Regions from separate parts of the Homo sapiens genome. Here all the other regions are reported to be linked to region 2. Evidence: microRNA targets listed by miRTarBase, many of them from high-throughput screens and not tested one by one. Region 2 holds a microRNA gene; each other region holds the end of a gene's coding sequence. Distances are from middle to middle.

What was found. The annotated mature microRNA hsa-miR-548e-5p reads CAAAAGCAAUCGCGGUUUUUGC and lies in region 2 at 3,597-3,618, opposite strand. An mRNA with a match to its seed (bases 2 to 7 or 8) in the 3' UTR can be bound and repressed. Matches are read on the target gene's strand: a 7mer-m8 pairs with bases 2 to 8, a 7mer-A1 pairs with bases 2 to 7 and ends in A, and an 8mer does both.
Region 1: the mRNA of DRC9 is a reported target of hsa-miR-548e-5p. The part of its 3' UTR that is shown has no 7-base or 8-base seed match.
Region 3: the mRNA of USP38 is a reported target of hsa-miR-548e-5p. Seed matches in the 3' UTR shown: 8mer at 4,332-4,339, 7mer-A1 at 3,179-3,185 and 7mer-m8 at 3,004-3,010.
Region 4: miRTarBase lists MYO1C as a target of hsa-miR-548e-5p. Seed matches in the 3' UTR shown: 7mer-m8 at 521-527.
Region 5: miRTarBase lists A1CF as a target of hsa-miR-548e-5p. Seed matches in the 3' UTR shown: 7mer-m8 at 4,583-4,589, 7mer-m8 at 4,175-4,181, 7mer-m8 at 4,125-4,131 and 8mer at 2,426-2,433.
Region 6: the mRNA of ATXN3L is a reported target of hsa-miR-548e-5p. Seed matches in the 3' UTR shown: 7mer-A1 at 4,072-4,078.

The regions. Positions count from the first base shown.
Region 1 is chr3:197,884,887-197,889,978 of GRCh38, forward strand. DRC9 (dynein regulatory complex subunit 9) reads right to left here. Exons shown (of 12, transcript NM_032263.5): 12 at 4,191-4,828. The coding sequence ends at 4,694. LRCH3 (leucine rich repeats and calponin homology domain containing 3) reads left to right here. Exons shown (of 21, transcript NM_001365715.1): 21 at 1-3,550. Among named protein-coding and RNA genes, the nearest start is that of RPL35A, 63 kb to the right of the region's middle.
Region 2 is chr10:110,987,558-110,992,557 of GRCh38, reverse strand. MIR548E (microRNA 548e) reads right to left here and starts at 3,632; the gene lies at 3,545-3,632. All of the region lies in intron 3 of SHOC2 (SHOC2 leucine rich repeat scaffold protein), which reads right to left.
Region 3 is chr4:143,219,919-143,225,001 of GRCh38, reverse strand. USP38 (ubiquitin specific peptidase 38) reads right to left here. Exons shown (of 10, transcript NM_032557.6): 10 at 1,128-4,707. The coding sequence ends at 4,546. Among named protein-coding and RNA genes, the nearest start is that of USP38, 38 kb to the right of the region's middle.
Region 4 is chr17:1,461,116-1,466,207 of GRCh38, reverse strand. It overlaps MYO1C (myosin IC), which reads left to right. Exons shown (of 32, transcript NM_001080779.2): 32 at 456-2,022. The coding sequence ends at 482. Among named protein-coding and RNA genes, the nearest start is that of CRK, 7.4 kb to the right of the region's middle. RefSeq lists enhancers at 2,184-3,003, 3,133-3,212.
Region 5 is chr10:50,802,137-50,807,228 of GRCh38, forward strand. A1CF (APOBEC1 complementation factor) reads right to left here. Exons shown (of 13, transcript NM_014576.4): 13 at 1-4,744. The coding sequence ends at 4,593. Among named protein-coding and RNA genes, the nearest start is that of ASAH2B, 65 kb to the left of the region's middle.
Region 6 is chrX:13,314,686-13,319,777 of GRCh38, forward strand. It overlaps ATXN3L (ataxin 3 like), which reads right to left. Exons shown (of 1, transcript NM_001135995.2): 1 at 3,962-5,092. The coding sequence ends at 4,182. GS1-600G8.3 (unknown transcript) reads left to right here. Exons shown (of 17, transcript NR_046087.1): 12 at 313-382; 13 at 840-926; 14 at 1,877-2,017; 15 at 4,103-4,151; 16 at 4,323-4,808; 17 at 4,934-5,092. Among named protein-coding and RNA genes, the nearest start is that of ATXN3L, 2.8 kb to the right of the region's middle.

The DNA.
Region 1 (5,092 bases), not on the chromosome of region 2:
ACTGGAGTGAGCCATCGGGCCTGGCCCAGATTTTGCATAGTAAAACAGTGAAACAGATAGAGTTGTATTTAAGGTCAGTATTCTAGGCCTCCCTTCAACTGCAGTCATACCATCATAGAAGATAGTTCTATGTCATCCTGTTATCTGGACATTATAATAAACAACAAGCCCTCTATACACAGGTTCCAAACCCCGTTATCTAGACATTATCAACAACAAGCCCTCTCTCTATACAGAGTTTCCAAATTCTGAAGCTGATAGCGCACTTGGTCTCACTGAGCCTCCCTCCCCGCCCTCCTGCTGCTCCTCAGACATCTGGGCCTGCAGACACATTGCAGTTACAGCACATACACTTCTAGCTCGGAAAAGCCTAGTTTCTTGTATTTCTTTCAGGTAACTGCCAGTTTCTGTGGCTGAATTTAAGCACTTACAGCATCTTCCTAGCTGGGTGTGGTGGCTCACACCTGTAATCTCAGCACTTTGGGAGGCTGAGGCGGGCAGATCACCTGAAGTTGGGAGTTTGAGACCAGCCTGACCAACATGGAGAAACCCCGTCTCTACTAAAAATACAAAATTAGCTGGGCGTGGTGGTGCATGCCTGTAATCCCAGCTACTCGGGAGGCTGAGGCAGGAGAATTGCTTGAACCCAGGAGGCGGAGGTTGTGGTGAGCCAAGATCGTGCCATTGCACCCCAGCCTGGGCAACAAAAGCGAAATTCCATCTCAAAAAAAGAAAACGCGCCCCATCTCGCTCCACCACAAGCGCCTTTATATACTCAATGATGGGTGGAGGAAAAGGGCCCAAGGGCTCACACCGCACAGGAGCCTTTACTCAAGTTTCAGCTAGTTTTCCTTCCCCTGCATTTTGAACTCCTTTTAGTTGTTGGTGATATCCTTTGGTGTTCACTGCCTTTGTAAAACAAGTAAATAAAGTAAGCGGAAGATATCTCTTTTGTTTCTGTAGTTGTTAACTGTTCTGGATTTTCTTTACAATGCATCCATTTGGGCATAATGTTATCCCTCTTTTTATCAGGTAAATGTAGCATCTAAAAGTAGCTTTGGATCAAATCATGTTGAATACCTGGTCAAAGTAATGTTTTCTTCCTTGTTCTTGCAGAGAAACAAATTCATCAGAACATTACCACTTGACCAGGTTTAAAATTGTATAACAGGCTGGGCATGGTGGCTCATGCCTATAATCCCAGCACTTTGGGAGGCCGAGGCAAGAGGATCACTTGAGCCCAGGAGTTTGAGAGCAGCCTGGGCAACATAGCAAGACCCTGTCTCCCAAAAATTAAAAAAAAAAAAAAAAAACCAGGTGTGGTGGCACCTGCCTGTACTCCCAGCTACTCAGGAGGCTGGGGTGGGAGGATCACTTGAGCCTGGGAGGTTGAGGCTACAGTGAGCCATGGCTGCACCACTGCACTCCAGCCTGGGCAACAGAGTGAGACCCCATCTCTAAAAATAAATTGTACAACATCTAACTTCAATGCCCAATCTTATAGAACAAAAGTAAAATGTCTTTATGTAAGACCCCATTATATTTACAGTTCCCAACAGACCCACCAACTCTTATATACCCTTATATAACTTGTTTAGAATTTAGCCATGTGCATTTTTAAACTGTGTTTGTCAACATTAAGCCTCAGTACAGTCTCCAAATTATATGCCACCAGAAATGAAATTCAGCAAAGGACAGGATTGTTTTTAACATACGCAAGCCAGCCTGGCCAACATGGTGAAACCTTGTCTCTACTAAAAATACAAAAATTAGCTGGGCGTGGTGGTGGGCACCTGTAATCCCAGCTACTTGGGTGGCTGAGGCACAAGAATCGCTTCAACCTGGAAGCCGAAGGTTGCAGTGGGCTGAGATTGTGCCACTGCACTCCAGCCTGGGCAACAGAGCGAGACTCTGTCTCAAAAAAAAAAAAAAAAAAAAACCCACCAAACCAAAAATATACTATGCAAGGAATAATTCTAGAAGACATTACATAATGCAATACTTGCAACATTTGCAACTAATTTTCCCATAGGGATAAATGGAAATTTCAACTTATTTCAAATTTTGCACATATTATGAAACCTTATTAATGTATTTTTATCAAACTAAATCAGATTTGTATTTGAATTGTTAGGAAAAACCATGTGCAGTTTTGGCTGATAATTGAAGGAAAAATATCAAATGCTTTGAATTTTTTTTCTCTTTTTTCAAACCCTCTGCAGAGGTAGGAAGGTATGAATTTCTTTTTTATGTCAAGATGCAAAAACAAATCATGATGCTTTTGTTGGGAGAATTTTTGTATTCAGTATTTTGTATGTACCTTTTTTTTTTTAAATTGGAAAGCACAATTCGGTTTAACATTTAGCTTTGCTTGACTCCAGTGTAAGATGAAGATGACCTTGTCACAGCTCCCCTGACCTGAAGCAGAGCCCTTCCCATCACTGACAGTGTTGGGGGTTGAGAGCCCCCCAGCAGAGCCCTTCCCATCACTGACAGTGTGTCGGCAGCTGAGAGCTCCCCCAGCAGAGCCCTTCCCATCACTGAACAGTGTTGGCGGCTGAGAGCCCCCCAGCAGAGCCCTTCCCATCACTGACAGTGTTGGGGGCTGAGAGCCCCCCAGCAGAGCCCTTCCCATCACTGAACAGTGTTGGCGGCTGAGAGCCCCCCAGCAGAGCCCTTCCCATCACTGACAGTGTTGGGGGCTGAGAGCCCCCCTAGCAGAGCCCTTCCCATCACTGACAGTGTCTGGGGCTGAGAGCCCCCCCTAGCAGAGCCCTTCCCATCACTGACAGTGTTGGGGGCTGAGAGCCCCCCAGCAGAGCCCTTCCCATCACTGACAGTGTCTGGGGCTGAGAGCCCCCCAGCAGAGCCCTTCCCATCACTGACAGTGTCTGGGGCTGAGAGCCCCCCCTAGCAGAGCCCTTCCCATCACTGACAGTGTCGGGTTGAGAGCCACCCCCAGCAGAGCCCTTGCCACGTACAGAGATTTTCTGTCAGCAGTTTCCCAGTATTTCAGACTCATAATCTGTGTTTAGCACTCCAGTGTTCTCTTGTAATAGCCAGGTCTGGAAACGACCCATGGAAAGAGGGGCCTTTGTATTCTGCTAGAACACAGAGCATAGTAGTAGATCACTTTTCTGAAGAGCTTTTTAAAATACAGCTAATCAAGGAGTTTGCGATTTCTCTTACTTTCTACAGCTCAGCAGTGACTAATGATGTGTGACTATGCGAATGAGTTTGATGAATTCGTAAAAACTAAGCGCTTAAATGGTTATAGAAATGAAAACATGGATATTTAGAAGCCTTTCTATATACACAGTGCAGTTGAGATGGTTTACAGCAAATTTCGTTTTATTTCTGAAAATGTTGTAAACATGTAATTAGTGAAAGATTTTGTAAAACATTGTCCTGTATTTTTGTCTGTAAATATATTGCATAAGTTCTAAGTATAAATATGTCAGTATCATGTATGTTATTTTAAATTGCCTGTACGCCACTTTACACATTGACATTCAAATAAAAGCCAACACTTCAGTGGCGTGTAATAAAAGCTGATTGGAGCGTGTTCATACCTGAGGTGTGGTTCCCTTGGCAAAGGTGAATCAAGGAAAGAGCATCTCATTTCCAGAGGGAATGTCAGTGGAAATGGGGGCTTCGGGACAAACTTTTGAGATCAAATTCATTTTTTAAGGAAGTACAGATATCAAGACTGAGCTTTATTTGGAGTTAGATAGAAGGCTTAATTCATGAAATGTATGTGACACATTAGGACAACTTTGCTCTTGGAAACCTTTAGCATCCCAAGGCATTGTTTTGACTCATCAAGGCAAGCATGATCTGGTGGGTGCATTTTTTTTCTAGGAGAAGAGGGAGAGTGACAGCTTTCCTATTTGCCAGGCACAAGTTAGATATTTTCACACACCTGATTTCTTTTCATCTTAACACTCCATAAAGTGGGGATTGGTGGCTCTAGTGTTTCACTTGTCAAAAATATCTCCAAACTAGCCTTCCAGAGAACCTGTGTCCCCATCTTTATAGTTTGTAAAGTTGTATATCCTAACATCCTATTTCTAGCTTGTATTTATAATTTGTATCCCTGTTTCCTAGAAAAGTTGCTGAAGCAGCTTACAACTGGATATGTATTCCATGCCATTTTCACCTGAATAAAAACACCAAAGTGACGATAAATCTAAAAGGCAGGCAGGAACCAACATTTATTAAAACTTTGCTGTGTATATATTATGCTGGACAGCTAATAACATCATATTGTAATTCCTACTGAATACTTTTGCTCATAAGAGTTTTTTCACTACAGACAAATTGGGTAAAATCAAAATCTGACATTACAGGAATTACTCAAGTTTCAATGCGTCACTGTAGCTAAGCCAGTGAACTCCTTTGTTCTGCTGAGAAAGAGCAAGAAGAATGAATCTTCACAGGACTACTAGAAACTTCTTCCCAGCAAGGTATGAGGAAGCCCTAAGTCAATGGTGTAATCCTAAATCAGGGTTTGAAAACCCACCTAACAGGCAGAGTGAAATTAACAGGCAAAGTGAAATCAGGCTTCCCTGGGAAAGTCTCAATAGGAAACAACCTGTAGATGAGTCATCTTTGAGGTACCAGGTGTTTCTTAACTCTCTCCAAGTCCTTCCCACCTCCAGAATACCAGCAGAAAACACAAAAGAGAACTTGGTCACTTCTTCTTGCCTCTCCTCTTATCCTTGCCTTTACCTTTGCCTTTTGAATCCTTGCTATCAACTTTGTCTTTAGGCATCTTGAAACCACCAATTTCTCTCCGTATCATAGTGCCTCGCCACCAGGCCTGGAGCTGGAAGAGAAAAGGGGAGTGAGTACGACGTATGCTATGCCTGACAAGCTGCATTCTTTCCACATAAAGGGACTGTTGAATAAAGTAACTTCTGTCTGACAAACAGTCTCTCTCCAGGACATGGAAGTAGCCAGGCACGTAATCACTTCAGCGATGCTCTCCTGTCGTGCAGGACCCGGAGCTTAAGCCATGGACTCAAGAGTGAAGTTCTCAAGTAAAAATAAAGAAAAGGAATCTGATTTGACCTATTTTTTCTTCACCCGT
Region 2 (5,000 bases):
ATCTCATTTTGAGAAGAAATACAAAGTAAAGTATTTTTTCCTACTTCGGACTGTTTCTTCCCTGGATTACATAAAACTACCAGAGGTACCAGAAGGCTTTAAAAAACATCAGGTTCATACTTTAAAACAAAATAACTGTTGGAATAAAGCTTAATATTTTCTTCTGTTCATAGCTAATTTCTGAATGAGAAAATATTCATATAAAATAATACTTTTTTTATTCAACAAGGCAGACTAACAGTTAAATCAGAGAAACTATAAATATGTATTTAAGCACTCTCTTACTTAACTGCAACTTGGTAATCCCCAACCCATTTCCTTCTGTCTCTTCCTCACATCCTATGAGTTGTCAGCGATACTAGCTTCTCAGCCTGGAAGTAAATGGCAGTAATTATCACAGGGGAGTGATAGTTACTCCAGGAATGTTCATGTTAAATAAAGAAAAAAGTAAAAAACATTCTGGTCTACTTATAAGAAAAAAGAAAAAAAGGAAAAGGCAAGTAAATACAGTGATTTCTGGGAAGTGATTTTAAGACAATACAAGATTTGATTTTCAGTTACAAGTTTAGGGCAAGATTCTTTAGTCCAAGGAAAAGAGAGTGGGCAGCTGCTTCCAGACTAGCATCAACTCTGCAGAACAGGTGTTGGGCTTTCTGTTTGTTTTTCATTTTAAGTTATACTTTCTCAGAACTAGAGTAGGATTTAAAAAAGGAGAAGTATCAGGAGAACCATAATTCAATTAAGTTTCCACTACTTAGGGTAAATTCTTCATCTTCAATAAATGAGAGTGAAAATCTCAAAGGTCAATTAAAACTGTTGAAATTTTTAACAGACCAAGACCCAAACGTCAAAGTTTCCCACCAAACCTCAATCTTCTGCTACATCATCAAAATACTAGGACTGGAAAGGATGGAGAAAGATAAAGTAATTATTTTAATAAACATGGTAATCGATAAATGACTACAATATCATAAAAAGTTTCAATAAATATTACTAATTTACTTTGCCATTTACTCAGAGTAACAGCTGTACTATACTTGGTGACAACCATCAAAGCATATAAAAGTAAATGCAATGTTATTTAAAATTTTCTTGTTGTTAATGTTTCAGTTCTCATTGATTTCCAATTTGTAATACTGTAATCTGGCCCTATAGAATAAGCTAGAGGTGAGGCATATGTGTTATTCTAGGATAACATCTAAACTACAAGAGATTAATAATAAAATCAAATGTTTTCATATTAGTAAACACACTTAAAACACAGAAGAATTACCTCCAATAGGACACTAATCCTACTTACTAGAAGACTGTATCATATATCACCACCTATGCTTTCTCTGTTTACCAGGATTATTCATTTCAGTACTTTAATCGCATGCCCCTTTGACTGTTATTTAACAAGTTTGAGATACAGACACATATATAAAAATATTAAATAATAAAATATTGTTAGACTATTTGAGACAGAGAAGAAGGCCGAATGAAAATCATGCTATATATATCTATCTGATCAGTTGAAGGAGCAGGCAAAGTTACACAGATATTTAGGAGAAAAGAGTTCTAAACAGAGAGATGGGAAGCACAAAGATCTCAAGGCTAGAATTTACCTGATATGTTCAAGAAACAATAAAATGTCTAGCATGTTTAATATCCTAAGATATACATAGTGACTAAACATCAATGAGAGGGATAAGAAAATCACTTGATAACATTTCAAGTATCTTAAATTTTGGTTCTCCTGTCTGATTTGCAGTAGAGTAAAGCAACATTTTGTTGTGTTTTTTTTTGTTTTTTGTTTTTGTTTTTTTTGAGCAGTAGCAAGATTTATTGCAAAGAGCGAAAGAACAAAGCTTCCACAGTGTGGAAGGGGACCCGAGTGGGTTGCCAATGCTGGCTCCGGCAGCCTGCTTTTATTCTCTTATCTGGCCCCACCCACGTCCTGCTGATTGGTAGAGCCGAGTGGCCTGTTTTGTCAGGGCGCTGATTGGTGCGTTTACAATCCCTGAGCTAGATACAAAGGTTCTCCACGTCCCCATCAGATTAGTTAGATACAGAGTTTCGACACACAGGTTCTCCAAGGCCCCACCAGAGCAGCTAGATACAGAGTGTTGATTGGTGCACTCACAAACCTTGAGCTAAACACAGGGTGCTGATTGGTGTATTTACAATCCCTGAGCTAGACATAAAGGTTCTCCACGTCCCCACCAGAGCACCTAGATACAGAGTGTCCATTGGTGCACTCACAAACCTTGAGCTAAACACAGGGTGCTGATTGGTGTATTTACAATCCCTGAGCTAGACATAAAGACTCTCCACGTCCCCACCAGACTCAGGAGCCCAGCTGGCTTCACCTAGTGGATCCCGCACCAGGGCTGCAGGTGGAGCTGCCTGCCAGTCCCGCGCCATGCGCTCGCCTTCCTCAGCCCTTGAACATTTTGTTTTTCTAAGACTAAGAATTTGGATCTTATAAAGTCATTTTTTGAAAGTGCTTTTATGTGACATTCCACTGAAAGTGATTATGATGAGATTATGCATTATTCTTTCTTTTCTTCTTTACCATTCCAATTAGTTTGTTGTTCATACTAACCAAACTTACAGATACATATTTTAATGTAAAAACATACAACACAAACTAAATATGTCACTGTGTGACATATTTACTATACTGAACACTATACTGAATATACACTGAATATATATGGCAAACAGAAAGCATATATACCCTGAATATATACTGAATATACTGAAGAACACTGTACTGAAATAAAACTTAAACCTATATGTTGAATTGGCCCAGAGTATACTAGGAAAATATGATCCTGAAAAATAAACACTGATAAATAAAATATAGTTCTTAAAATTTCAGAAATCTAGAAATAATACTTTGGCTGGCCAAGCAAAATGACTAAGTCACTTATCATGGGGAAAAAAGAAAATGGACTGGCCTCTTATTTTTGTACATTCAATTCCAGAAGAAGGTAGAACTACCTGTTAACAAGTTCTACTGAGATCCTCAAGGAAAGGCAGTTTGATCCAATTATTTTGTATCTATCTAAATTGTTCTTAAATTATAAAAGCTACACACATGCAAGAACTATAGGAGAATACTGCTCCCATGAACCATTTTTGAGCAAATGACTACCAACCAGATTGACTTCAGCCAACCAAGAAATGACTGAGGCAACTATGGCAACAGGACTGCTGATAAACATTAAGACTAAAACAAAAATGGGAATTAGTACAACAAGGTATGTTACCTATGCTGACAATGCAGTTAACAAAAATAAGAAGAAAAAGAGACTCCTCCAGAAACGGCAGAAAGTAGAATAAACTCATTGATTGCCTCATCTGTACCATGATTCATATTTATGGATCACTCCACCCAACAAAAGTAGAATACACATTAAACTGCACATGGAATACTTTTACCATGATGAAAGAATTCAAGTCCTATCAGGAATGTTCTTGACCACAATGGAGGTAAATTAGAAGTCAATAATATATCATGGAAAATTGTCAAGCTTTTGGGAACAAAATAACATTCTTCTATCAGGTTGGTGCAAAAGTAGTCTCAGTTTTTGCCTTTAAAAGTAATAGCAAAAACCGCGATTGCTTTTGTACCAACCTAATAAAGCCATAGATCACAGAAGAAACAAAAGGGTAAATTAGAAAAAACTTTTAAAAGGAAAATACAACATATCAGAATTTGTGGGATGCTGCTGAAGCAGTACTTAAGGGGAAATTTACAGTGCTAACTGTCTTTATGAGAATAATAGAAAGGTCTCAAATTAATGACCTCAAGCTGCCACCATAAGAAACTAGAAAAAGAACAAATAAAACTCAAAGTAAGCTGGTGAAATAAAGTTCAAAATGGAAATCAATGAAATAAAAACCAGAGAAACAATAGGGAAAATCAATAAAACTAAGAGAGGATCAACACAATTGATATACTTCTAACCAGAATGATTAAGAAAAAGAGAAAACATACAAATTCTTGATATCAGGAATTAGAGAGGTGGCATTACTATAGATTCTACAGATATTAAAATAATAAGAATGTTATGAACAACTTAATGCTTTTAAATGTGATAATTGAAATAAAACAAATATATTCCTTGAAAGACCCATATGACCAAGTTTGCTGAAGAAGAAAGTGATAACCTGAATAGCCCTATATTTATTAAAGTAATTGAAATTGCTTTAAAACAAATTCCCATAAAGAAAAGTCCTGTCCTGGATGGCTTCACTGGTGAATTTTATCAAATATTAAAGGAAGAAATAATGCAATTTCATACAAACTATTCCAAAAATTGAACATACGTAGCCAGCATTACCCTGAAACCAAAAACCAGGTAAAGATAGGTTGTATAACATTACATGTGAATTTATTATTTATTCAAAACAAATACATCTAATATTTAAAACTACCACCAGAATGTAACTTTTTAATTTATTTCTTCTTGGTAAGCAATTTTGGTCTTATTATCCGGGTTTTTATCAAGTTCAGGGAAACATTATAAAATTATATTTTATAACTATCACCACTATTTGGCCTTCTGGAACGTCTAGTCCTATCTGCCATGACTTTTTAACTTTTCACTTCTTTTGTATACATTTCTTTTTGATCTAGATTCTAGGGGACTTTTAATTTATCCTAGAGATCATCACTTTGGTCTCTGGCTGTGTTCATTTGGTTATATGGAATTTTCCATTAAATTTGATTTGGCAAACATATCTCTAAGAATTGTATTTTATTCTTTGTTCCCTTTTTGTATCAGCCTCATCATGTTTTAAACATGCAGTTTAAATATCCTATGTTTTTTTTCTCCTAAGGTCACATCTCCTTGTTCATCTTGGCCATTTCAATAGATTTTAAAGAGAAAAAAAAGCATGAAATAATTGTGCTTGGTCCTTATTATCTTGAACCAGAAATCTGATTCTCTTATTTTATACAGGACATTTAGTAGAATATTTATTTTGGATATTAATAGAATAATTCA
Region 3 (5,083 bases), not on the chromosome of region 2:
TTGGGTTAAAATCTTAGTTCTGATTTTTACTAGCTGCACGATGTTGAGCAAGTTCCTTAATCAGAATCTTTATTTTCTTTGTCCATTAAGGGGTAAGGGAGGATATGGGTATGAGCCCACTTACAGGGCTGGTATAAGTTAAAAAGACACATAAATATCTGCCAGTGTCCAGCACACGGTAGACTCTTGACATATGTTAATAATCCCCTTGAATGAAAGACCTATGGGGAAAAAATTCCTTTTGTAGTCCAGTTCTCAACCCAGGTGGCACATTAAAATCATGTGAGGAACTTCAAAAAACGTTGATGCCCAGTCTCCACATAATGTAATTGGTCTGGGATGAGGGTTGGGCATGGTATGATTTTTAAAAAGCTCAAGTGATTTCAACATGAAATGCAAGGTTAAAAACTGATGACCTGGCCAGGAAAGGCTAAATTTTTCACCCTCTGAAATCAAGGGATGTGTGTGTGTGTGTCAACAACACAAGCAAAACATGAAAACATGAGCTCCATGAAGAGAAAAACAACTGCAGGTCATAACAGACACTGACGAGAGCTGGCAATACACTTGGCTGACTTCTTAGATTCTATTTTTAATGTTAAGTCCACACTGGTTATGTAACAGTGGGGCTAATGGTTTTACATAATAAATCCTTTTGAATTTGTGAAACCTAGACTGCTGATTTTATAAAAATCTTGATTCTCATTTCTTTAGAAATTATTTCTATACAAATTTCTTCATATGGGAAAGCTTTTTTTTAAACAAGCTAGTTTTTTAAAGCAGTTTTTTTTTAATCCCCCATTCATTTTAAGGTTCGTTCACTTCTAAAAAAGGACTGTAAGAAAATTAACTTAGGCTAACACTGAAGATACATAACAGTTTGATAAAACTTAAGAATATACATATGAAACAGCTTATATTTTAGAATTATTTGTTTTTTGGGGATAGCAACTTTTAATTCAAATTTCCTTACTGTTGCACTTCTTAGTTACAGGTTTGCATTATCTAAGATTTAACCTTACTCCTCTGATGTTACTGAGTTGCTAATAATAACCAGTTAGCATTTCCTAGTATGTTTTTGTAAAATGTGAATAACTTACTCTTCTCTACTTCAGGAATATTTAGTTTCAGAAATCTAAACTCATTAGAAAAAACGTATGATGAAAGGATATATAAACTATCACATTTTTATGAGAAAAAATACTATATATAAATGTACAGTATTTTTGAAATAGTCATTTTAAAAGAGCTCTTTATATGGAATGTATCATGTGAAGTACACAATCATAGGAAAAGATGGACTGAGAATTAAAGACCTGGAACAAAGTACAAAGCATCAAAATGAAGATCTCCAGTAACTGGACAAACAGTGCCAATTATTTTTTTCCTAAACTGTGCTGGGCACACAATAAGCATCCAATTCCACTTATTATAAGATGATAGCTTTAAAGAGGTGTATGTGAAAAGAAGACAACTACTTTTTTAAGGATTATCATACAAAGAACAGAACTGAAGAGAAAAAAATTATAGATTTGAACTTAAGACTTAGCTTGAAAATTTTTGTTCTTTCCACATGTGCATTAATGTAATAGGCTGTTTGAACCTTTCGCATGGACCCCCCAATGCCTCTAGCATCATAATGAATTTTTATCTCTACATCCAAAGGATCTACCAACAATTTAAGGTATGGAGATAAAAGTCAGGGATCTCCAGGGATATACTGCCCTGCTTCTCTGATTATTTAGCTGGAAGAGAGGCAGTGGGAAGATGCTTGAATGGAAAATGAGCTAGAATCCTTCCTTCAATTTGATATGTTAATGCCATAAATCAGAGTTGCACAGGCACCTGCTTAGTGGATAGCTTACTGGAGCTTGTGTGACATCATATATATTTCCTTCTTTGCATATCTCTAAACAATTTTTTACTTTAATTATGTCAATAAACATCTTTGAAAGAAAGACTCAGATTTGTAGTTTTTCATTTTTGCTAGCAGTGAAGCCTAATGCTTCTTAGCAGCAATGAGCAACTTCATTTAAACTGATTACTCTGACTAAGGAAAGAAAAACAACAATAGTACTCTACTCAGTCTTCAGAGTCAAACCTCACAACAGTTGGAGCTAGTACACGGGTTAGGAATATGGGAGAAAGAAAAGACCTAATATGACAAATAAATCTGTAATTAACAGGGATCTGTTAGAATCAGAACAGTCCTGAGTATTACCTTACTAAAAAAGTTCAGATGCATAGGTTTTGAATGAAGTTTCTGATTATTCTGGTTCCAAATATGTTGAATTCAACAAATCACGTAAAAAGTTACTGTATTTTTAATGTTAAAAGGAAGTCTTCAAGTTTTTGGTACTGGTATGAGTTATCATTTGAATACTCTTCAGTGTTACTATATTTAGTCAGCTTTCCATATCCTCAGGCTCTGTATCCTTAGATTCAAACAACTTTGGATAGAAAATTTAAAAAACCAATAAATATCATAAAAAATAGTACAAATGAAAAAACAATATAACAACTACATAGCACAACGTAAGTGCTATGCAATCATATCTAATCATCTGGAGATTAAAGTATATGGGAGGATGTGCACAGGTTATATGCAAATACTGTGCTATTTTATATAAATAAGGGACTTGAGTATCTGTGGATTTTAATATTGGGGGATGGTGTTCTGGAACCAATCCACTGCAGATACCAAGGAAAGACTCTAACTAGAATTCATTTTATCATTTAAAAAAGTCAATACATATTATCTTGATACATAAAATCCTTGAGAGACCTGATATTCATAGATAAAGCTGCACAAGTATAATTGCTTTTATGAAAGTTCCTAGAAGCATCTTAGCCCAATATCAATCTATCAAGTATTAAATCACTTTACCAATTTCAATAAATGCCAAGACTGATATAATCTGGTCGTAAGTTGCTATCAAGTAAGTGGATAACTGAACACACAGGATAGCTCAGAAATTCACTATTGGGATAGGAAAACCACAGAAAAGCATGATAACTGGTTCATTCATTTATAAGGAGGAGAACCTTCATTAAATCTGCAAAGAATTTTCAGTTTTTAATCTAATCTGCCTTCCTAATCTTCCTGGTGATTGGAAACAGGTTAGGAATGGGAGGTAATGGAATAAACATGAGGATTTCTGTTTTTTAACCACTGTCATAAAAGCTTGGGAAAAAGATAAACCCCAAATCATCGAAGAACATTGTTTCCTTAAAGTGTTTTCAAAATAAATATGAGACCAATCTTCAGAACAATGCACAACTGTGGATAAGTTAAAACCTTTAGGAAGGGGGATAACTGGGATAACTCTTGAGTACTGTATAATCAAGAACCAGGAGAACTGACATGTTTCCAGTTTCCTGGCAAAAGAAAAAGTGTAGGAAGGTAGGGTTTGGCATTTTAACATTTTATCTAAAACTACGAAAATAGAAACAACAGTGCCAAACATATGACTGAAACAAACAAACAAAAAACCCAAATGTAAAACTCTAAAAATATGTGATCAATGTTTAATATTCTGAGGAATAAGTAACAAAATCAAGACAGATTTTTTACTTAGCTGGGTTAATTTCCTCTGAATTCTTCTAAGAGTTAAAAATGAACTATCACATTGATTGATTTAGAACCATCAGATTTTACTTCTGGAAAATCTATTACCTTTCAAAAAGTTATAATTTTAATGTTAGCACGAAAATTACTTCCTAACATTTCATTAAAATTTTGCAGCCAAAGATTCCTATTTTTGAATTACAGTACTGCAAGGCACATACAGAACTCACCTCCTTCAAAACCACAGAAGATATACTCCCTGAAATAGAATTTTAAAATCCTTGAACAATTAGAAATACTATAAAGTTAGCATTTTTTAGGTAAAAATGTTGCTCCTACAGGATCATGCAACTTTCTTAAAATCAATTCAGCACATATGTATAAAGAATCCTTTTTAAAAACATTTGTACTTGAAATACAGACACAGTGATGCTGAAGACACTAAACAAAAACTGAAAAGTACTATATCTTGATAAATTTTGTTATTGCCTTCTTTAGAGACTTTATAATCTCTAGTTGATTTTCAAGGACTTGAATTTAATAATGGGGTAATTACACAAGACGTAAAGGATTTTTTAAAAACAAGTATTTTTTTTTACCTCTAGCATCAATTCTTTTATAAAGAATGCTAAATAAATTACATTTTTTGTTCAGTAAAACTGAAGATAGACCATTTAAATGCTTCTACCAAATTTAACGCAGCTTAATTAGGGACCAGGTACATATTTTCTTCTGAACATTTTTGGTCAAGCATGTCTAACCATAAAAGCAAATGGAATTTTAAGAGGTAGATTTTTTTTTCCATGATGCATTTTGTTAATAAATGTGTCAAGAAAATAAAAACAAGCACTGAGTGTGTTCTCTTGAAGTATAAGGGTCTAATGAAAAATAAAAGATAGATATTTGTTATAGTCTGACATTTTAACAGTCATAGTATTAGACGTTTCGTGACCAGTGCATTTTGGACTCTCTCAGGATCAAAATACGAGTCTGCCAACTGTATTAAATCCTCCTCCACCCCCTCCACCAGTTGGTCCACAGCTTCCTGGTGGGTCGTTGTCATCAAATCCATTGGGCCGAAATGAACATGAAGCAGATGCAGCTTGGAGGGCCCGGGCTCGAGCATTCAACTCTTGTTCCTAAAATTAAAAATAACTTTTATGAAATTAAAATGCTAAATACAATGGATCGTTATATCACCTATAGAAATATTTTAAAACTACCTTAATCCTTATAAACATTCTTCAAATCTCAATAACTTTGAAACTAAAGCACCTAAGAAAAAAAAATTTCTCTAAGAAAATATTACAGTTCCTGCAACACTCTCTAAAACATACTGGAATAGATTCTTTTCTAATATATTTAACATAGAATTCAAAGATTATCACAATAGATTATCTATTCTCCAGCAATTGGGGCTATTTTGGAAGTGGGTGATTACAGTTAAATGTATGAATAAAGGAAGAAGACTGAATTTTTTTCTGGCCTTTCCATAGACTATTTCTCAATAAATAA
Region 4 (5,092 bases), not on the chromosome of region 2:
CAGCCTGGGTGACAAAATGAGACCCTGTCTCAAAAAAAAAAAAAAAAAAAAAAAGGCAGCACGGCAATGCAGGGAAGATACATAGGCTGATTGGGGGTGCCAGGAGGGAGGACAGGCTCACAGGCTCACGCTGGCCAGGGCGGTGGGCATTCCTATGGGAGTCAGGTCTGAGTCTCCAGGATGGAGACCACTAGGCCCCCACCACTCCTGCCTGCATCGAACCCATGAATCTGAGCGCTGGGGCTGGGTGCGGCGGCTCACGCCTGTAATCCCAACTCTTAGGGAAGCAGAGGTGGGAGGACAGCTTGAGCCCAGGAGTCCAAGACCAGCCTGGACAATATAGCGAGACCCCATTCTCCATAAAAAGGAAAAAACAAGGACGAAAAGAAAAGTCTGAGTACCGGGGCCCCCGTCTGCTCCCCTCACCACTTGGCCGTCTCTCTCCGCCCCCACAGGTCGCCCCACGGCTGAATTCTCGGTGATAAAGGCGCCCACTGGACCCTCCCAACGCCCAATGCTTTGCTTTTCTCCTCCTCCCCTTCCCAGTTACCAAAGACTCGAACTTCCAGACAGGGACCCAGGGACACCCCGAAGCCCACCTGCAATCTCCCACCTCCTGCCCATCCCTCTCTTGAGGGAGCAGCAGGGGCCAGGAGCTACCCCAGGAGTGGGCCAGGCCGGGCCACAGCAATAGGAAAGCCAGGGCCAGAGCGAGCCATGCCAGCCCTACTGCCGATGCCAAATATTTGAGAGAAGGGAACTTTTGCTGAGGTTTTCTCTGAGGTTTTTTTGATGCTTTATAGGAAACTATTTTTTAAAAAAAGCCATTTCCCACCCAAGGACACAGTGGATGTGTTTTCCCTGACTCCAGCAGGGCAAGGAATGTAGCCGAGAGGTTGTGTGGGCTGGGCTCTGGTGCCCTCTTCCCTGGCCAGGACACCTCTCCTCCTGATTCCCTTGGCACCTTGTCTTTCTGTCTGTTTACCTGTCTCCCTGCCTGCCCATCTGCATCTTTTGCAGCCCACTCTGACTTCCATCTGGGGGCTGAGACCACCCTTGCCTGCCCCCTTCTTTCTGCCTTAAGAATGTCCTTTTAGGCTGGGCATGGTGGCTCACGCCTGTAACCCCAGCACTTTGGGAGGCGGAGACGGGCAGATAACCTGAGGTCAGGATTTCGAGACCAACCTGACCTACATGGAGAAACTCCGCCTCTAGTAAAAATACAAAATTAGCCGGGCATGGTGGTGCACGCCTCTAATCCCAGCTACTCGGGAGGCTGAGGCAGGAGAATCACTTGAACCCGGGAAGTGGAGGTTGCAGTGAGCCAAGAGTACACCACTGCACTCCAGCCTGGGCAACAGAGCGAGACTCCGTCTTAAAAAAAAAAAAAAAGAACGCCCTTTTACTGTCCTCATCATCCCAGTTTGAGGCAGTGCTGGAGTGGGGAAGGCCGTCTTAGACCATAGAGGTTGGAAGACGCTGAGAGATCATCCAGCCCAGCCCCTTGATGTTACAGAGCAGAAGACAGATGCCCAAACAGGAGAAGGCACTTGCCCACGGTCATACGGCAGGTTGCCACAAAACCAAGATGGCAGCCCTTCCTCAGCGTGCCTCACTGCCACTCCCAGAGCCAGGGAGCCCCATAAAACCCACATCATGTCTTAAGAGTATATCTGGCTCCTTGACCAGCAATCGGCCCTGGGAGCCACCAGGTGGGAAAAGCGCCTCTGCCAGAGTCCAGGCCTTGGGATGACAGACAGCTTGCCCGCACACTCGGGCCCCACTCAAGGATGTAGGGCCTTTTCTGGCCCCTGACCCCTCCCTGGCATGGGAGCGTGGGGACGGGGCTGGCCTTGGGAGGAGCGGCAGGGGCATCACCTCCTTCTGCTGCTTCTCCCTGCTCCTACCCTCAAGGGCCTGGGGGCTGCCCAGCTGCCTCTATGCCCTTCTGGGGGTCTCAGCCCACTGCTGACACTTCTGCAATCCAGAGAAACACTAAATAAAGCAATACGTGTTTGCCAATGTGGTCTCCTTATGAATATTAGGAAACGAAGAGGGCCCCGGAAGGCAACCAAGGGCCTCGTGTTGCAGGTTTTTCTCGAGACAGTCTCGTTCTTGTCACCCAGGCTGGAGTGTAGTGGTGTGATCTTGGCTCACTGCGACCTCCACCTCCCAGGTTCAAGTGATTCTCCTGCCTCAACCTCCTGAGTAGCTGGGACTACATCATGCGCCACCACGCCTGGCTAATTTTTGTATTTTTAGTAGAGATTGGGTTTCACCGTGTTGGCCAGGCTGGTCTCGAACTCCTGACCTTGGGTGATGCCTCCCACCTCGGCCTCCCAAAGTGCTGGGGTGACAGGCATGAGCCACCGTGCCCGGACACCTCTCGTTCAAATTCTGTTGCAAGTGACAAACCCAGTCCAAACTGGCTTGGGCCAAAAAAAGGATATTTATAAGCATTAGCACCTTAGTCCCAGAGTAAGGCTACTTCCAGGTGCTCACACACTGTCAGGAATGTGTCTGGAACCATCGCCTGGCTGAACCTTCCTCTACAGTGGCTTCTTTCCCAAGCAGATTCTCACCTGGAGGTGGGGTGGCAGCAACAGCCACCCACAGCTCCAGGCTTTCATTCTGTCAGTTCAGCATTGGAGGCAGAAAGAGGAAGTGCCTCTTTCCCAAAATGTGGAAGTCTCAGAGCGGATTCTCAGTGCAGCACCTTGAATGAGGCATCCACCCTGACCCAATCACTGTAGCCAGGGAGAGGAATAGATTCTGATTGGTCAGGCCTGGATCGAGTGCCTGCCCCTGGAGACAGAGCTACCAGGGGCACACCGGAACCCACACCGGAAACCACAGAACCAAGAGTGGGAGGAGATGACTCGCCAAAATGAAATCAGTGTCGCCTCCACAAGAAAGAGAATGAGTGGGCCGGGCGCGGTGGCTCACGCCTGTAGTCCCAGCACTTTGGGAGGCTGAGGCAGGTGGATCACCTGAGGTCAGGAGTTCAAGACCAGCCTGGCCAACACGGTGAAACCCCATCTCTACTAAAAATACAAAAATTAGCCAGGCAGGGTGGCGTGTGCCTGTAATCCCAGCTACTCGGAAGGCTGAGGCAGGAGAATCCCTTGAACCCCGGAGGCGAAGGTTACAGTGAGCCGAGATTATGCCACTGCCCTCCAGCCTGGGCGACAGAGCAAAAAAAAAAAAGAAAGTGCTTCAAGCTGCAACCACGGAGCTCGTCGTCAGCAGATGGCTGTGAGTTTTTCCAAGAGGGCGGCGCGCTGTGGGTGGAGGGAACGGTGCATGTGGAGCTTAGAGGCAAGAACAGGTTTGGCCCGGGGTCAGGCCAGCTGCCTGAGGAGCTTAGATTTGAAACCTGGGGCAGAGATTCTCAAACAAGGAGATACCACGCAACGTGGTGTTTTGGGCTTGACACGATCCTGTACGCACACCTACATTTTGACACCTCTCTCCATGATTAATTTTCCCGAGGAAAAATGAAACCACAATTATTCGTCCACTTTATCAGCAGTAACGATGCCTCCAAGAAGCTGATAGATAAGATAGGTATTAAGTGCAATTACATGCTTTATAACTGTGTCGACATTCCTTTCTCTAGCAAACCAGAATGCACGCGAGAATGACATCACAGACATTACCCAGACGTCCGCCTTTTTTTGTTTGTTTGTTTGTTTTTTTGTGACAGAGTCTGTCGCCCAGGCTGGAGTGCAATGGCACGATCTCAAAGTGGTCACTCCAAAGTGGTGGGATGACAGGCGTGAGCCACCGTGCCCAGCCTACTCTGACCTTTTGAGAGGTAACCAGGACTGGTTTGTGCCCTCAGCTCACATCCTGAGGGAAGTCCAGTGACCTCCAGGAAATATCTGCCAATTATGGGAAAAGCTAATGCTGGCTCTAGACAAGAGCTTCCGCCAGTTCTCCATTCATCCTTCCTTCATTCAACCCGGCGCTTTGGGAGGCCGAGGTGGGTGGATCATTTGAGGTCAGGAGTTTGAGACCAACCTGGCCTCCTGAGGCAGGAGAATTGCTTGAACCCGGGAGGTGGAGGTGGCAGTGAGCTGAGATGGAACCACTGTACTCCAGCCTGGGCAACAGGTTTTTGTTTGTTTGTTTGTGTGTTTTGAGACGAGTCTCACTGCATCGCCCAGGCTGGAGTGCAGTGGCGCGATCTCGGCTCACTGCAACCTCTGCCTCCTAGGTTCAAGCAATTCTGCCTCAGCCTCCTGAGTAGCTGTGACTACAGGTGCGTGCCACCACGCCCAGCTAATTTTTGTATTTTTAGTAGAGACGGAGTTTCACCATATTGGACAGGCTGGTCTCGAACTCCTGACCTCATGATCCGCCTGCCTTGGCCTCCCAAAGTGCTGGGATTCCAGGCATGAGCCACCGCGCCCGGCCCATTCAACCAGTATGAATTGAAGGAATGCTTGCAATGTGCCAGGATCTCAGTGAGGCTCTTGGGATATAGCAGGAACAACAAAAAGACCCAAATCCCTGCTCTCATGGAGCTTACACTCTAGCAAAGAATAGACAATACGTAAGGAAAATACCTAACATATTAGAAAGAGATAAGTGCTAGGAAAATAAGCAAAGCAGACAAGGGGAGAGGGAGTGTTGGTGTGTAGTTTGCAGTCAGGCAAGGCCTCACAGAGGAGATGACATCAGAGCGGGGACCTGAACGAGGAGAGGAAGTGACGGCTAGGATCTGGAGCAAGAGTGGTCAAGGCAGAGGGAACAGCAAGGCAAAGCCCTCGAGGAACGTGGAGTCTCCTGAGAGGAAAGGGAAGAAGGCTGGGGGCAGAGAAGAGTGGCAGAGGAAATGGGTACCTTCTCCTTGATTCTGCAAGAAGGCCTTTGTGTGAGCAGCTTCCCTAAAAGATTGCAGCGATGAGAGGAGTTTGCACGCAGCAAAGCAAATAACCCATTCTCGATGGTCCCAGAATCACATTGCCAGTGGGGACATCTTACTGACCTTTCCTGGAAGGCGCAGCATCCTGCCTGTGCTCCTCGCTCCGTCTCTACCCAAGACTCTCCTTGGAGTTCCCCTCACATGGTGCCCCAGAGTTCTCTT
Region 5 (5,092 bases), 60 Mb from region 2:
TCCTTAGTTTCACTCATTATAGCGCAACTTACTTTGTTTTTCTAATGTTGGCAAACACAAACATAGAGCCTGGTAGATACATTACACTTTCTATGAATATGTTCTAGTAAAATTCAGAGCATTTTCAAGATATTATTTGGGCAAACTAAAATTTCAAAATCAAATTTGACAGTTTAACAAAACCTGATTGACAATGGTTGCACGTCAGGTAGGAATATTTACTGCCTAGTTTCTTCCTGTCTTCCAATAAGTATATACAAAATCTTAAGTTATCCTATTAACATTTTCTTTTTAAAAATATTTATCCAAAGTTTCCTTGTAGTGCTATGTTAGAAACTTAGTTTTATCTTTAACAGATGTATTTACAATATATGAAAGTGTATCTACAATACATAAAAAGTGCCAAGTTTCTAGTCTAATTTTTAGATATATTTTCTTCCCCCTGGGAACTTTTATATGAATGCAAGAAGAGAATAATCATGACTTTATGTGAATATTGAGCACATAGTTCATTTTTTGTTGTAAGTTACTTTTAGGAAATCTTAGTGTTAGAGTTGTTCAATAATAATATACTTTATCAAACTTCATAGGTTAGAATGCAATGAAAATTTACCCCGAATATTAACTTGATTGCCCTTTATTCTACAAATGGCACACCTAAGAACCTCCCTGTCTATGTGGATTCTAACTGTGGCCCAGTTGTCCAAGACAGAATTATAAAACGGTCATTTAGAATATAACAAAAATTAATAAAAATGGAACATTATATTGATGCAATATTTTGCTAATCTATGCAATCAGAATAACATTTTTTCTAAAAAATACTTTTAAGTAAAATAAAAACCAATTTCCTGCACAGCTATTATCAGTATATACTTATAGTTTAATTTCTATTCCATCATGAAAAAGTTAAGAAACTGTGGTTTGGAAACAGGTTCCTTTTTGTTAGATATTTATTTTTGCTTTTTTGGAGACAGGGTCTTGCTCTGTCACCCAGGCTGGAGTGCAGCGATGTGAACATGGCTCACTGCAGCCTTGCCCTCCAGGCCTCCAGCAATCCTCCTGCCTTAGCTTCCCAAGTAGCTGGGACCACAGGCCCACGCCACCACAACTGGCCAATTAAATTAAATTTGTTTTTTTTTTTTTTGTAGAGGCGGAGTCTCTCCATGTTGCCCAGGCTGGTCTTGAACTCCTGGCCTCCAGCAATCCTCCTGCCTTGGCCTCCCAAAGTACTGGGGTTATAGGCATGGGCCACTGTGCCAGATATTTTTTGAAATCCATATTTTCTTGACATGAGGTAGCTTTTTAGCAGCATTTCGGGTGCTGTTCCCCAAACATAGTGTTGTTTGGCATGATACCAGATTGGAGGATATCCTAGTCATCTAGGAGAATTATATTTTGTTGCAGTTGAAGGTGCTGTTCTAGATATACTAATGCAGTGGGAGAGAAATAAAGCAATTTGAGAAGAGGCAGCACTTTTATAGGAAAGAAAATAGATACCCAATCCCATTGCTGATCAATTTCCTCCTACTTAAGCAACATTAGGCTGATTTTAATTATCAATAAGCTATTAATTACCAAAATTTAGAGAACTAATTCAAATTTACTGGATGTTCCTAAATTATTGTTTTGTTATTATCACCTGGTTGGGTGACAAATTTTAATTTTTTCTGTAAAGAATTAGGAAGCATTCAAATAAGAAATTACAGAAAAATTGATAGTGATGCAGAAGGTATGAAGGTATTATATAGGTGCTAATTTCTTAAGTCTAAAAATATAAACCTATGCAAAATTAGCCTTTGGTTCTACCAGCAATTTAAAAAAGCCCGTTGTCTTAATAATTTTAAACTTATGGTAGCAGGACTTGCTCTATCTACCTAACTTGGGGAAAGTAAAAATAAACATATGGCATGGTAGACACATTAACACTTTCTATGAAGGTATTTTAATGGAATTCAAAGTATTCCCTAGATATTACTAAAACAAAGTAAAATTTTAGCAAAAAAACCAAAACCACTTCTACCTACTTATACAAAACTGGCTCTAAAGAGGTAAATGGTGTGATAACTTGAGATGGTGTTCCAGTGGTAATTTTCTCAATACTTTGGTATTATTGTATGTTTAGGTGTCTGCTCTTAATATTGTAAACAAACAATTATGACTTTATCCAGAATAATGATTTTTTCTCATAAAAAGATTCATGTATTAACTAATCTTTTCATTGCGATTAAATTTAAAACTTCTCTAAATCAAACCTAATTTGCATTGACAAGACATCCAGAATACCCTTTGCTGTTTATTTGCAAAGATTTTAAGGAAAATCAGAACTTTTGCTCCTAGAATTTGGAATGCTTTTTAGACTCAGTAGAAATTTGCCTGCCCCAATGGACATTTGTTATGTCAATGTAATCACTGTCTTTGAGAATAAAAGCAGATCTGTAGGGGAGTGTAAATTTGGATCTAAGAATTGTTTTAGGACAAGATTGTTTTACTTTCTCATTTTTAGAGTTAGTTTGAAGCCTACGTAAGTTACATTTAAATTCATACTATTTATGGGATAAATATGATTTGGCTATTTGTCTTAACTTAGATGATTTTTTAATTGCATTTTTCTATTTACTAAAAGTGAAATAAAAAGGAAAAGAAATAAAGAGATAGAGTATAAATACAAGAATATAGCAATTCCCAAACCTAGGTGCACATTGAAATCACCTAGGGATCATTAAAAAATACTGATGCCAGGCACCCATCCAAGGAAATTCTAGTGTAAATTTTATGAGATATGTTATTGGCATTAGCATTTAAAAAGCTCTCCAGGAGATTCTAATGTACAGCCTACTTTGGGAACTACTGTCCTAGGAAATATTAGACGCTAAATGTAAAGTAGAAAGCACAGGGCCTTTCAGAGTTTCAGCTGTAGCCTTGGAGGCTTTGTTATCTCATTGGAGTTAGGACAACTGAAATGTTACAAGTACTTCTGATTGTGATTAAAATTTACCTGATTTTGATTAGAATCTGGCCTGCTTTTTGATCACAGAATTCCATTAAGGAGTTGACAAAATTTTCCATGTCTTTGTGTTTATGTTTTCCTTTGTGTTCTGTAAATTTTTTTAAGGGCCAAGGGATTTTAAAAAATGAAAATTCTAGTACTGTGTCTTAAACCACTAATGAGATTGATGTAGGAGTAACAGGTATTTGGTGTTGGACTTAAGATTATTTATGTTTGAACAAAGCAATCATTTACAAGTATGGCAAGAAAGTAGTGCCTTCTCTTTACCTCTGTTCCGTGTTTTGTAGCACCGTTGCCCTCCCCTCACTTCATCATCAGATATTTCTGGAGAAGAGGCCTAGGACTCTGGGGGGAATTTGGTAAATAACACCCATGCTGATTGTCTGAAACAGTTTCTAATCAGCAATGATTGCTGTAAGATTTTTCTGTGGCAGCTTCAAGACAAAAGGACTCAGGTATGGTGAAGCTGCCTGATACTTACTGAAACAAAAAGGAAGGAAAGTTAGAGGATTTCCTGGCAGATTTAAAATAAATGGGTTAGATAATGCAAAGCTAATCCCAAGTTAATATAAGCATCTCTGATTGCTAGATGGTGGGGTGGATACTGCAACAATATCAAAGAAATGAGAGCAAATCTGCACTTCTCTCTTTAAAATGACTTTTCAGTCAATTTGCTGAAAGGAAGAAGTATCATAAATGATATTCTGTATATCTGATTTACTTTTTTATGATATTAGGTAGGAGAAAAATGAGTCTGAGATGATGAAAATCAAGCAATATGAACAAGTCAAAAAATTTTAAAGTAGAAAAGGTCATTTCATGCTGGCATGATTATTGGAAAAGGTAGGAGTTCTAGGGAAAAATAGGTGTGGACTAATGAGCTGAATAAACAATGGGGCCTGGATTTGTTTTAACCACATCTACAACATATCATATCTATTTCTAGGAAGTCCCCATGGGCTGCAGGGGACAGGAAGATCCTGATCTGTGACAAATCGACTGGATGGAATTTTCAGGCTGAAGAGAGGTTGAAACCACAAAATCTTGGACAGTCTTTCATGAGCTCAGGCCTGCAATCATGCCCCACACAGTGAGCCATGGTGAATGCATTTTGAAAAGCAACCTCCTCCCTTCCCTTTTCCTCTTTGTGACTTTGTGTATCACAAAAGCAGCTGTGAGCCAGAGGTAAGACTCTGGAGTTTACTTGGCTTCCCTTGATTATTACTGACTGCCCAGGTCTGCTCCATCCCTCCCAAATCTTGCCAGCTACAAGATCTCTCTTCACCCTGGCAGGATTTGTAAACATACTCCCCAAACACTCAGGAAGACTGGAAGAACAACTTTTGGGGCAGTGGCTCTCCAGCTTTCTGTTAAACAAAAGGCTCTTTAACATTTGATTTCATTTCAGAATAACGTTCTTACTTCATGATTCTATAATTGGTATAAGCTATACAGTCTCTGGAAAGGCATTTCTTTAGGAAACATATTATTTATGATCATTGGGGACCGAGTTAGAGGTTTATTTCTTTTTTTTTTTTAATAGAGTTTTGTGTGTCTTATTCTTAAATTTAAAAAAGCATCTTCAGAAGGTGCCATATCCATCCCCTCGGGCAGTCACTGCAAAAGTTGGGTAGACCTCATAGGTTGTATATGCTGCTAAGTCTTGTCCAAGGGTTACCGCTTGCTTGAGCTGGGCTGCAGACACGGGTGCAGTTGCATTAGGGACAGCATATCCTGGAGGAAGAGGCAGAGAAAACTTGATGAAAGGAATTCACATTTGCTCCCTTTTGGCTTATTTGTCTTCTTTTAGAAATACGAACATTTAACATATTGCTTAAAGCTAAAAGTTAATATATATGTTTTAAAAAGTGTCCTTAAGGACACAATATGTGGACTCAGTGATTTTCAATGATATTTAAACAGTCCTAGGACAATGTTCCCTAAAGTGGGGTCAACCACCTGTGTCAGAATCACTTTATACTTAAGAGAATTAAAGATGCTTGGGATAGGGTCCAAGAAAGAGAAACTTAACAGGATACTGAGTTGATTAAAGCTTGTGATTTTTAGCGTTTTGAGGGTCTC
Region 6 (5,092 bases), not on the chromosome of region 2:
AAATGTCCCTGGCACACTAGAAACCGTGAGATTTCCCTCTGCATATTTCAGAGACAATGTCTAACCCAGTGAGCACAGTGGGACTGCAAATACCAGGTAATGATCTTGGGGTTCCCAGCCACAGCGATTACGCTGGACATTTTGCAGGTGTCTTGTAGAGAGAAATGCTGTTTTCTGGGCCTGCAGCCCTGAGCTTAGGGGGTCCCACCAGCATCCAAGTAAGAGTCCTTCAACGATGGATGCGAGCATTGTGATTTGCATGTGTCCTGTTAGAACACTTTGTGTGTTTCTGAGGCATATATCTCAGTGTAGGTTTTCCAGGGTCCCACAAGGAAATCCCGATAAACAGGAGTCAGGATCAGGGAACACGTCTGCTATCTGGGTAAGTGATGGTGTTCATGGTAAACTCACCACACACCAGGCGATCTCCACATACCTAGGTAAGCAAGGTTCCTTTGCCTGAAGGGTTTATCATGTGATGGGTTAACAGGTATTTTGGTAAGAAAGGGTAGCGGCTCTCCGTTCTCCTCGCCATGTGATCCTATTGATTTCTACCCTGGAAAGAATGTATGATGTATGTGGTCTGTGAGGGCTGATTGATTGTCACATACCCAGGGAACTCATGTGGCATTGTGCATCACAGGAGTAACTGTGGTGGATTTGCAGGGAAACTGGCCAGGGAAAAATAGTGTGTCCTACAATGGCCTAGACCCTGGAGGGCCTGCAAGCATCCAAATACATTTTTGACTCCCACAGTGATTATACTGAGCAAGGCGGTTTGCAGGATCCTGATGGAAAAGCTGTGTCTGTTGAGCCATTGATCACACTTGCAGTTTCAGGTTCAGGCAGGCAGAAGTCAGAGCATGAGGACAACATTGAGGTCTCTCCAGGCGATTTATGGACTCTCGGATTTGGTAGTGATTCAGGTACGAGATGATCATGGCTCTCATCATTGTAGTGACCATGGTATTTTGAAGGAATGCAAAAACAGATGATGGGCCCGTCCCTGACCATGGTAGTGCCCATGGGATTTTTTAGCTATAGAATGAAAAGATGACAATGACCATCTCCATGGTAATGTCTGAAATTTTTAAAATATCCAGGTAACAAATGAATGTTTCTGCTTAGGAAGTGAACATAGAATACTGAAGTTACAGAGTTAAGAAATGATGATAAACTTCACCATGGGGGTGACCATGATATTTTCTAGATATCGAGATAAGTGAGGATGGTGACCCTAACTTGACTACCAAAATTGAGTTTGCTCAGGTAGGCATGAAGGAGCTGATGATGCCGCTTCCCATGTTAGTGAATATGACATTTTGTGGTATTCCAGATATGATGGCGAACCTAATCACAAAATAACCATGAGATCATGAGATTGTCAGGGGTCTAGTAAAAAGATGGTGGTCCCCTTAACCATGAAAGTTATGATGAAATTTTGTAAGCCAGTAATTAAGAGATCACAGAGATCCTAACCGTGATACTGAACAAGGAATTTTGCAAATCACCAGGTAAGAGATGATTGTGTCTCTAAAAATGTGGTGACCGTGGGATTTTGCAGATATCCAATTAAGGAATAATGTGTTCCTAGAAATTGTAGTACCAAGGTATTCAGCAGTTACCCAGGAAAGAAATGGTATGTCCCTAGCAATGGCATTTAATCTGGGTAATTTGTAGGTCTCCATGTATGGTAGGTTTTTCTAAATCTGATAGATCTCATGGGCTTCTGTAGGCATCCGCATGAGAGATGATATGTCATAAATTGTAAGTAACTGCCACTACCGTAACCAAAGTATTTTATAAGTGTCCAGCTAAGAGCTCTGGCTTTATGTATTTGTTGGATTTATGACCATTTTTTTCTGTGTTTTCATAGTTTTTTTTCTTTTTTTGAGAGTCTGGCTGAGGTATTGCTGATGCACGCATAAACCACAGCATGCACCATGGGACTGTCCCAGGGACCTGGTTCACTGATGAGATGTCCCCACACGTCTTCCCGCCGTGATTTCTTTCACAGGTACTCAGCTGAGAAATGATTGAGTCCTTACCAATCCCAGATTGGCCAGGTTTTCCCATTTTCTGTTTCAACAAAAGTGTATGCTGAAACCTGTGAGTGTAGAGGGATTGCAGGGAGTCAGGTATTTATCACTGTATTCCCCGCCCCCGTGCTGCCCCTAGGATGTCTACAGGTGAACAGTCGAGAAACGGTGGTTTTCTGCTATCAGGGTCGACCTGAGATTACTGCAAGTATCCAGGTCGAGTGGGTGTGTCCCCAAAAGATGGAAATCAAGGTTATTTGTAGGAGTGCTGGTGGAAAACCCCATGTCCTTCTACACATGTGTCTTCTACACATCTGATTTTGCAAGCTGCCAGAGAAGATATGATGGTGTCTCTAAAAATGTCTAAACATGTGGTGACCACGGGATTTTGCAGATAACCAGTTAAGTAATAATGTGTCACTAGAAATGGTAGTCCCAAGGTATTTAACAGTTTTTCAGTCACCCAGGAAAGAAATGATGTGTCCTTAGCAATGGCATTTAATTTGGTTAATTTGTAGGTCTCCATGTCTGGTAGGTATTTCTATATCTGGTTGATCTCCTGGGCTTCTGTAGGCATCCACATGAGAGATGATGTGTCACAAATTGTAACCAAGTGCCAAGGTATTTTACAAGTATCTCACTTAAAGCTCTGGTGAATATAAGTTTTTGAAGATACCCAGTAGGGAATGATGTTGGCCTAAGCCGTGGTAATGCCCACGAGTAGTGCCCATATCTTGGTAACAGGTGGTGTGTGTCTAATTATGGTTGTCACCATGGTTTTTTTGCAAATTCCAGCAACATAATGAAGACAATCTTAACCGCTCTTATGAATATAGGATTTCGCAAGAATTGAGGAAAGAAATAATGTGGGCTTTAACCAAGTAGACATGATTAGATTTTGGGGATTTCTAAATAAGTGATCACGGTGTCCCTAACCATGGGATTTTGCAGGTTGTAGTCAATAGGTGATGATGAATTTAACAGTAGGCGCAAACATGGGATTTCTTGATACCCAGGTAAGACATGATGTGGTCCTTAAACATATTACAGACCATATGATTTTTTAGATACCTAGATAAGCAATAATATATCCTGAAATCTTGATGTTACCTTTTTTTTTTCCCATTTAAAAAGTCGCTCATTCTCAAATATTTGTGCAGGGCTGATTTCAGAGTATAAGAATGCACCAGCGGTTGGCCCAGTGACTCACGCTTTAATCCCTACACTTTCGGAGGCCGAGGCGGGCAGATCACTTTAGGTCAGGAGTTCGAGACCAGCCTGGCCAACATAGTGAAACCCTGTCTCTACTAAAAGTACAAAATTTAGCCGGGCGTCCTTGTACATGCCTGTAGTCCCAGCTAGTCGGGAGGCTGAGGCACGAGAATCACTTGAACCCAGAAGGCAGATGTTGCAGTGAGCCGAGGTTGGGCCACTGCAGTCCAGACTGGGCGACAGAGCGTCTTTGCCCCCATCACCCCACCCCCAAACAAAGAAAGAGTAATGCACCAGAGTCATGAAATAATGATCTTACCACAGAGGGCGTAAAAAACAAAACCTCAGAAAATATTACCATATTTCGAAAGACTTGTGGAAAATAATTAAGGACCAGGTAGCAGAAATTGTGATCAGAGGAAATAACATAAGAATATACTTAAGCGCACAGTACATAGTTGGAGGGAGAACTGTTTATCCTTCTAAAACCGTTACTATGATCAACACAGACAAGAGACACTTCCCTGAAAGGTTAAATTGTTTCATGAGAAATAAAAGCAACCAAAATGAGCCACATTATCTACAATAGAAGAGACTATATGGAAAAAGTTCTATGGCAAGAGCTAATTCGTTGGTATACAAAAAGATCCATGAAAAATGACCCAATTTTAGACACATTAGATATTGCAGGCTCAAAAATCAAAGGAACATTTTGAAAGCTAATTTAAATTTAATTAATTGCTGAATGTCTCCTTGGCTAGTAGTTGAACGATCATTATTTAGTCCCACATCTCTCTCGTCATTTTGTTTGCAAACTGTCTAAAAGCCTTATTTCCTCATCTCTTTGACAGATGACCAAAATGGATCCTACAGTATAATCACACAGGATAATGTTGGAAAGTATGACTATCTAAATTATTTTTAAAGGCATTATTTTTCCCCTTTGATTTTCAAATTCTTTCTCATAATTTCTAAAATGGTGTCGACAGCGGCCTGTACTGTGCCTTCACTGATGTCATCACTGAGATCACTCTCAATTGCTCTCGAACTTGTTGTTGGCCTTTCGTGTAGGTATGAACTGTGGCCCGGCAGATCTGACTGTTGTTGCTGCTGCTTCTGTTCCTGCTGATGCTTTTCAAAATAGTCTTCTTTTATTTTCTTCGGCTGTTCTGAAGCAGGAGTTACACATGATGTCTTTGGAAGATCTTGCGATGTGTTTCCGGAACTACCTTGCATGCTTAACTCAATAGTACTGCGGAGATGTTCATCTTCTCTATTGGTTTCTTGGCGGCTTAGTTCAAGGGCCCTCTGAAAATCCTCCTCATCTTGGTCTGATGTTCCAGACTCATCACTTTCTTCTGATACTTTTTCAAGGACTGTTTTATAGACTCTATGCTCTTTTTGTTTTACTAATTTTTTTCCATTAAGTTTTGGTGTATCCATCTCTTCGACACTGATGATCTGCAGGAGTTGGTCAGCTTCACAGTCTGGCAGATCACCCTTGACAACAAATACAGAATATGCTTGTTGTTGTAATCGAGCCAAGAAATTTGCAAGGCATGTATCTGATATTAATTCTGGACCCGCCAAGAGAGAATTCAAGTTAAACCAGTGTTTTCCAAATTTTCTAATAGTAAACCAGTGTTGTTTATAATTACATATAAAAGATCTTTCATTTATAGGATCAATGCCGAGCTTCTGATATTCAGGATTATTGAAATGGATGATCTCTAAACCCCAGAACTTCAAGGCATTGCTTATTACCTGAATGGAGAAGAAACCGGTATCATCCATGTTTTCTGAAGGCTGCTGTAAAAATGCAAGATACTCTTCACTGGTGA